2 linked regions of the Homo sapiens genome follow. The protein of the gene in region 2 interacts with the protein of the main gene of each other region in a pairwise test. Each region holds a gene or a part of one and is shown on either strand. Other genes may lie near its edges.

What was found. The genes of interacting proteins can lie anywhere in the genome.
Region 1: the proteins of PEX1 (region 2) and EPS8L1 interact in binary tests that used the Homo sapiens proteins (3 or more experiments, as listed by UniProt).

Annotation. Positions count from the first base shown.
Region 1 is NC_000019.10:55,074,411-55,078,668, reverse strand, and holds the start of EPS8L1 (epidermal growth factor receptor kinase substrate 8-like protein 1), read right to left. Parts: upstream 2,801-4,258; 5' UTR 2,750-2,800; exon of another isoform or gene 2,262-2,749; 5' UTR 2,225-2,261; coding exon 2,208-2,224; intron 582-2,207; coding exon 541-581; intron 1-540. UniProt on the Homo sapiens protein: Stimulates guanine exchange activity of SOS1. May play a role in membrane ruffling and remodeling of the actin cytoskeleton.
Region 2 is NC_000007.14:92,518,521-92,522,020, forward strand, and holds part of PEX1 (peroxisomal ATPase PEX1), read right to left. Parts: intron 559-3,500; coding exon 475-558; exon of another isoform or gene 440-474; intron 1-439. UniProt on the Homo sapiens protein: Component of the PEX1-PEX6 AAA ATPase complex, a protein dislocase complex that mediates the ATP-dependent extraction of the PEX5 receptor from peroxisomal membranes, an essential step for PEX5 recycling.

The DNA.
Region 1 (4,258 bases), on a different chromosome or scaffold from region 2:
GGCCCCCAGCCCCTCTTCCCTCTGACCCAGGAGTCCAGCCCCCCAGCCCCTCTTCCCTCTGACTCAGGAGTCCAGACCCCCAGCCCCTCTTCCCTCTGACCCAGGAGTCCAGCCCCCCAGCCCCTCTTCCCTCTGACCCAGGAGTCCAGCCCCCCAGCCCCTCTTCCCTCTGACCCAGGAGTCCAGCCCCCCAGCCCCTCTTCCCTCTGACCCAGGAGTCCAGCCCCCCAGCCCCTCTTCCCTCTGACCCAGGAGTCCAGCCCCCCAGCCCCTCTTCCCTCTGACCCAGGAGTCCAGGCCCCCAGCACCTCTTCCCTCTGACTCAGGAGTCCAGGCCCCCAGCCCCTCCTCCCTCAAACCTAGGAGTCCAGCCCCCCAGCCCCTCTTCCCTCTGACCCAGGAGTCCAGACCCCCAGCACCTCTTCCCTCTGACTCAGGAGTCCAGACCCCCAGCCCCTCCTCCTCCAAGACCCTGGATGCCAGGTCCTGTTTCTTTAGACCCAGTTCTATGGGCCTGGGGCTCCCTTGCCCCCCGCTCACCATAGATAGACTTGGCGCTTGGCTTTGGGGCAGCTTCTGGGCTGGTGAAGAAAAGAGGAATGAGAGAGACTGTGGGACTGGGGGCAGATCCTGTGGAAATGCCAAGCAGGGCAGCAAGGGCTTCATGACGAAGGTAATGGGGAGCGATGGAAGGGTTATTATTATTATTATTATTATTATTATTATTATTATTATTGAGCAGGAGAGCTCAGAGCCAGAGCTGGACTTTAAGAAGACAGGTAGGCTGGGCGCGGTGGCTCACGCCTGTAATCCCAGCACTTTGGGAGGCAGAGGTGGGCGGATCACAAAGTCAAGAGATTGAGACCATCTTGGCCAACATGGTGAAACCCTGTCTCTACTAAAAATACAAAAATTAGCTGGGTGTGGTGGTGGGCGCCTGTAGTGCCAGCTACGTGGGAGGCTGAGGCAGGAGAATCACTTGAACCTGGGAGGCGGAGGTTGCAGTGAGTCCAGATCGTGCCACTGCACTCCAGCCTGGCAGCAGAGTGAGACTCCATCTCAAAAAAAAAAAAAAAAAAAAAAAGACAGGTCAGGTCAGGCGGTGGTGCTGGGTGGTAGGGGAGTGTGATCTCTACCATGGCATAGTCCGGGATTCAAACCCTCTGTCTACTGCCTCCTTGCCATAAGACCTTCAGAAGAGGATTTAATCTCTCCTGCCTCAGTTTTTCTTTCTGTAACGTAGTAACCATCTGGTAGGGCTGTTGGGCAAATTCAGTCAGATGATGCAGGTGAAGTATTTTGAAGCCTCAATAACTGTTATTATCATTCTTAAGATGCTGCCAGGGCTTAGCACACAGAAGTTGCTCAATAAATGGGAATGGTTATAATAGCATTAGTGGTATCTGAAGTAGACAGGGAATTATCTGCTTCCCCTCCCACTCCCATGGGCCAGGTGCTTCCCAACCACATCCTTCTCTGTCTCCTCCCGTCCTCAATTTCTTCCTAAGATTACCTTTCCTAAGAATTCTTGAATCCCCACTTGCATGCACATAACAGAAGCTCAGCGATCAGGTGGCGTCAGGGGAACTGAAAAACCCTTTTTCCCAAACTCCTGTTCCTCATCCTGCTCCTGCCAGTCTGATGTCACCACAATTTGATTACCTCTGGGCCAGAGAGCTCACTACCTACCATGCAGGTATTTTGACTCATCTCTCATTGTTTTTCTCCCTGCTTACTCTGGGGGACTTGAGTCTTCATTATAAACAGCCCTGATTTTCTAGCAAAGGGTTAATATTTACTAACAACATAACAATCGCAATAGCGACTCCTATGAGTTGAGCACCTGCTGTCAGTGAGGTGGTCAGCTAAGTCCTGTAATGCACTATCCCTCCAATTTTTCAACATTGTCCCTGTGTCACAGAGGAGGGGCTGAGGCTCCAGGAGGTGATGTCCTCTGACCAGGGTTACATCAGCACTGAGTGTGAGGGCCGAACTGGAGCTCAGGCCTGTCTGCTCTGCAGTGGGGGCCCCTAACCCCAGGCTGGGCAGGGAGGAGAGAGGCTCTGGCTTCCTCCTGAGTGTCGGGGCTTGGGCCAGAGTCTGGGCCGCCGCAAACAGTCTGGGCTGCCGCAAGCGGGTGTGGGTGAGGAGGCGAGGGGAGGCGGGAGGCGTGCTGGGGCTGGGACCTGGGGTCCGGGGGCGCTTACCCTGTGGCGGTGCTCATGGTGCTGAGTGGTAGCTCCTGCCCACCTGGAGGTGCCCTGGGAGCCAGCAAACATGTGAAGGCCTGGCCAGTAGGAGCCTCTAATTCCTACCCCAGCCTCCTCCCTCAATGCAGGCATCCAGGCCCCAGCCCCTCCTCCCTCAGGCCCAGGAGTCCAGGCCCCCAGCCCCTCCTCCCTCAGACCCAGAAGTCCAGGCCCCAGTCCCTCTTCCCTAGACCCAGGAGTCCAGACCCCAGTCCCCTCCTCCCTCAGACCCAGGAGTCCAGACCCCAGTCCACTCCTCCCTCAGACCCAGGAGTCCAGGCCCCATCTCCTCCTCCCTCAGACCCAGGAGTCCAGGCCCTCAGCCCCTCCTCCCTCAGACCTAGGAGTCCAGGACCCCAGGCCCTCCTCCCTCAGACCCGGGAGTTCAGACCCCCAGCCCGTCCTCCCTGAGACCCTGGAGTCCAGACCCCAGTCCCCCCGTCCCTCAGACCCATTGGTCAAGCCCCGGCCCCCTTCTCTCCTGACCCGGATCTCCTTACCTGCCTGCTCAGGCTCTGCCCTGCTCTCCGCTGTCCTTTCCCTTCCAGGCTGCCGGCCCCTCCTCCTGCTCCCTCCCAGGGCCGTCCTGCCTCCGCCTCCGCCTCCGCATACCTGAGCATTCACCTGGCACAGCCTGGCTGGAGTGACCCCGGGGCGGGGCTGGCAGACAGATCTAGGAGGGGCTGGGGGGACTGCAGGGGAGCTGGGAAACTAACTGTCTGCCTTGTAGCAACAGAATAATAGCAACGAACAGTACATTTGATGTCACACTTGTTCACAGGTCAGAGTTGAAAGCTCTGTCTTTAAAACTCCCTTGAAATTCTAACAGCGGGAGGAAGTTCGAGGTTTGATTCCTGCTTGACAGATGAGGAAGCTGAAGGCCAGAGAGGTTGAGCAACTTGTCCATTTCAGCACTTGGTTAAGGAGGGATTTGAACCCGGGGCTGACCTTCTGTCTCCAGGGCCAGTGGCAGCCCGTCTTCTATGGACACCTCCTGCCCACGATCACTGCCTCTGCTCATGCCCTTACCTCCCCACCCATCCCGTTCCACCTTCCTTTGGAAATTTCCCTCAATGACCCCCCTATTCTGACAAAAGCTAAGATTTAGCTCGATAATGCCTGGCCCAGCTCCAAGGACATCACAAAAATGAACAGGCTTTCCAGGCATAAACACCTTTCTGAAATCACTTTTCCAGAACTCCCTCCATGCTGTAGAGGTTACTAGCAAAGCTTTCCACATCATTTCTCCCCAGAGCCCCGTGAGGGGAGTGTGTCTGGGTGGGAGGCTGTCTTCGTCTCACAGATGAGAAAATGAGGAAGAGAAGGGTTAAGAAACTTGCATGGGTACAGTGGCTCACATCTCTAATCCCAGCACTTTGGGAGGCCGAGGCAGGCAGATCACCTGAGGACAGGAGTTCGAGACCAGCCCAGCCAACATGGTGAAACCCCATCTGTACTAAAAACACAAAAATTATCCAGGTGTGGTGGCGGGTGCCTGTAATCCCAGCTACTCAGGAGGCTGAGGCAGGAAAATCACTTGAACCCGGGAGGCAGAGGTTGCGGCGAGCCGATAATTGCACCACTGCACTCCAGCCTAGGCAAGAGAGCGAGGCTCCATCTCAAAAAACAGAAAACAGGCCGGGCGCAGTGGCTCACACCTGTAATCCCAGCACTTTGGGAGGCCGAGGCGGGTGGAACACGAGGTCAGGAGATCGAGACCATCCTGGCTAACACGGTGAAACCCCGTCTCTACTAAAAATACAAACAATTAGCCGGGCGTGGTGGTGGGCACCTGTAGTCCCAGCTACTCGGGAGGCTGAGGCAGGAGAATGGCGTGAACCTGGAAGGCGGAGCTTGCAGTGAGCCGAGATTGCGCCATTGCACTCCAGCCTGGGCGACAGAGCGAGACTCTGTCTCAAAAAAGAAGAAAAAAAAAAAGCTGACATCTTGCAAGGCCTTAAGGGACGTGATTCTGATCTCATCTCTTCCTTCTGTGTGTCAGCACACTG
Region 2 (3,500 bases):
ACAATTTTATTACCTATAGTTGTCAGGTTGTACATTAGATCTCTATCAATTCATTCTTTTTTTATTTGAGACAAGGTCTCACTCTGTTTTCCAGACTGGAGTACAATGGCAAGATCCTGACTCACTGCAGCCTTGACTTTACGGGCTCAAGCGATTCTCCTGCCTCAGCCTCCCAAGTGACTGGGACTAATGGCATGCACTACCATGCCTGGCTAATTTTTGTATTTTTAGTAGATACGGGGTTTCACCATGTTGCCCAGCCTGGTCTTGAACTCCTGGACTCAAGCAATCCACCTGCCTTGGCCTCCCAAAGTGCTGGGACTATAGGCATGAGCTACTGTGCCTGGCCCCAATTCATTCTTATAATTCAAAACCAACTCAGAATATATAATAAAGCTTAGAGAAAGCTAAAGACATTGATATTGTGAAGTAATTTAACCTTAAATGAGATAGTTCTTATTTGGTTTTCTTTACCAGTATCTCCCAATCATCTGCTGAGAGGGGTTCCACCTCAACTTGTTGACAAGATACCACATGGGAACATGGCTTGAGAAATACCTAGAAAAAATTAAAAATTTAAAACTACTTTAAAAAAACTTTTCTGTGTCATATATTAGAAAATAAGAAGTTATCTTCTTACCATTTTAGGTTAAGTAGATGTGTGTGTATGTTTTGGATGGGGGTGTATATGTAGTCTATGTAATCTTTCTTTTCTGTTTTGAGAGATGGGGCCTGGCTCTGTCACCCATTCTGGAGTAGAGTGGTACAATCATAGTTCACTGCAGCCTGGAAACCCTGGGCTCAAGCAATCCTCCTGCCTCAGCCTCCTGGGTAGCTGGGAAAACAGGTGCAAGCCACTGCACCTGGCTATATGTGTAGTCTTTCATGTGGCAAATATTTATTACTTATTCTTAGCCAAGACTTGATATACTCAGCATTTTAGGAAAAACTGTTTCATAACTAATTACAGAATGAAGAAAAATACATCTCAGCATGACATGTTTTTCAAAAATGAAAGTAATCATTAAAATGTAAAAATGTAAGTAAAAAATATAAGAAGAAATGACTATATCATCAAGTTATGGCTTGATCTAATATATAAATATTCTCATTATTTCTAGAAGTTTTGCAACAGACATGCTGCTTCAAGAAAAGTGAAAAATACACTGAAATAGACACTGGAGACAAATATTGAGAAGTATAATCCTTCACAGTTGAAAGTTAAGTAAAACTAATAATACCCTCCTATTATAGTTTAAATATATGTAACACTAGTATGTCTATAAGCTGGAGTCACCATCTTACTTCCTTTCCCCTTCCATAGGCATTTCCAAGGATTAAAGGAGTAAAATCCAAAGCCTCTGCATGTTAAATACTCTAGGTAACCAACCCTTCCTCTCTGCTTTTGTGGACTGGAGCAGGATTTCCCTGAGTGCCTCACCCCCAGACTCCTCAGTAGATTTCTCTTCAATATCTCCCTTACTGAAAAGGATGATTCTGAGCAAGCACAAAGCAGCTCCTGCCCACCAAGAAGCTAGAGACTCAGTTTCTTAGTGGCATTGCTGCAATAAGGGATCTAAAAAAATCAGGTAAAGTCACTTCAAAGCAAATGGGAGTTAAAAACAAGTAGGATTCTTCAGAGTACTAATTAAGACTTGAAAATCAGGAAGTTGATGTTGCCCACAGGGAAGTGCTGGGTACTCAGAGGGCAGAACTGTAACCTGCTAAGCAATCCTGGGTAAAATATTCCATCTCCTTGTATTGTAGAACAAAGCACCAAAGTTAATGATTTCTAAGGTCCGTCTGGTGCTAAAATTTTAAGATTCTAGCAACAATTTAGAGTATGCAAGGGACTAGTGTTAGGTTTACAGATTTCTCATGAGTAGCCTATTCTCATCAAAAAACATGCATAAACAAGATTAGTCTGTGCTCAAAACAAGTTAAAAAGACATGGCACTCTCGTGTATTGTCATGGGAAATTAGTAATAGAGAGCAATGTAGCCCCATCTATATAAGTTTTAAACGTATAGCACCCTTGGCTATTCTGTTTTTAAATGTTTCAGTCCACATATATATCTGATTCTGAGAAAGCACAAAGCAGCTCCTGCCCCCTAAGAAGCTAAGGACTCCTGGCCTAGCCAGTCCACTTTCTGTTCCTATCAGTGATTCTTCAGGAGATAGTGTCTTACTGGCAGGGCTGCAACAGAGGATCATGAAGACGCACACAGAGAGAGAGAGAAAGAGAGAGACATGTTAAATGCACATTGTTTGTAATACATGGAAAGGTATCTGAAATATTTTGTGGGGTAATAATTGCAGAAAATATGAATGATCTCATTCTTCCAATCCTAAAGGTCTACTGAGATCCCCATTCTGAGGATGGGACTGGGAAAAGGTAAAAACTCATTTTTTACTTTCAATGGTAAAATAGTTATAATGAATATGTATTATTACTACATCTTCTTCTTTTAAGAGATAGGGTCTTGCTATTGCCCGGGCTGGAGTGCATAATCATAGGTCACTCAAATTCCTGGTCTCAAGCATTCCTCCTACCTCAGTCTGCTGAGTAGCTGGGACTACAAGCATTTGCTACCATGCCCAGCTAATTTTTTTAATTTTTTTATAGAGATAGGGTCTTGCTATGTTGCCTAGCCAGGCTAATCTTGAACTCGTGGCCTCAAGTGGTCCTCCCACCTTGGCCTCCCAAAGCACTGGGATTACAGGCATAAGCCATTGAGCCCAGCCTCACATTATTCTTACAGTTTAGAAAATGTTTAAAGGAATAACTTGATAAACATAAGAAAACAAAAGATAGACATAGGTATTCAAGCTTTCAGGTTTATAATCTAAACATATTAAACTCATAAGGGAAAACAAAAATGGAAAAATAATAACCCTGTGTTGTAGAATTTTTTATTTTTTATTTTTTTTCAAGACATTGTTTCGCTCTTGTCACCCAGCTGAAGTGCAGCAGTGCAATCTCAGCTCACTGCAACCTCCACCTCCCAGGTTCAAGCAATTCTCCTGCCTCAGCCTCCTGAGTAGCTGGGATTACAGGCACCTGCCACCATGCCCAGCTAATTTTTGAATTTTTAGTAGAGAGGGGGGGTTTCACCACGTTGGGCAGGCTGGTCTCCAACTCCTGACCTCAAATTATCCGCCCACCTTGGCCTCCCAAAGTGCTGGGATTATAGGTGTGAGCCACCGCACCCAGCTGAATTTTTTATTTTTAATCAAGTGAGACCATGGAAGGTTATAAAATATGTCAGAAATAAAGTTTAATAATAGTAAGTAGAACCTAGTAATTCAGAAGGAAAAATAATTTCATGAAACCAAAATTAGGGGATGTGGAAAATGAGTTAAATAGTAGAATAAGAAGCAAGTAGGGAGTATGGTAAACTACAAGATAATGACCTAAAAACAGAGTATAGTCAGCTTCAATATCCTAGACTAGTTACATAATAGCATACAAATTAGGTGACATCTCACCTCCTTTAACA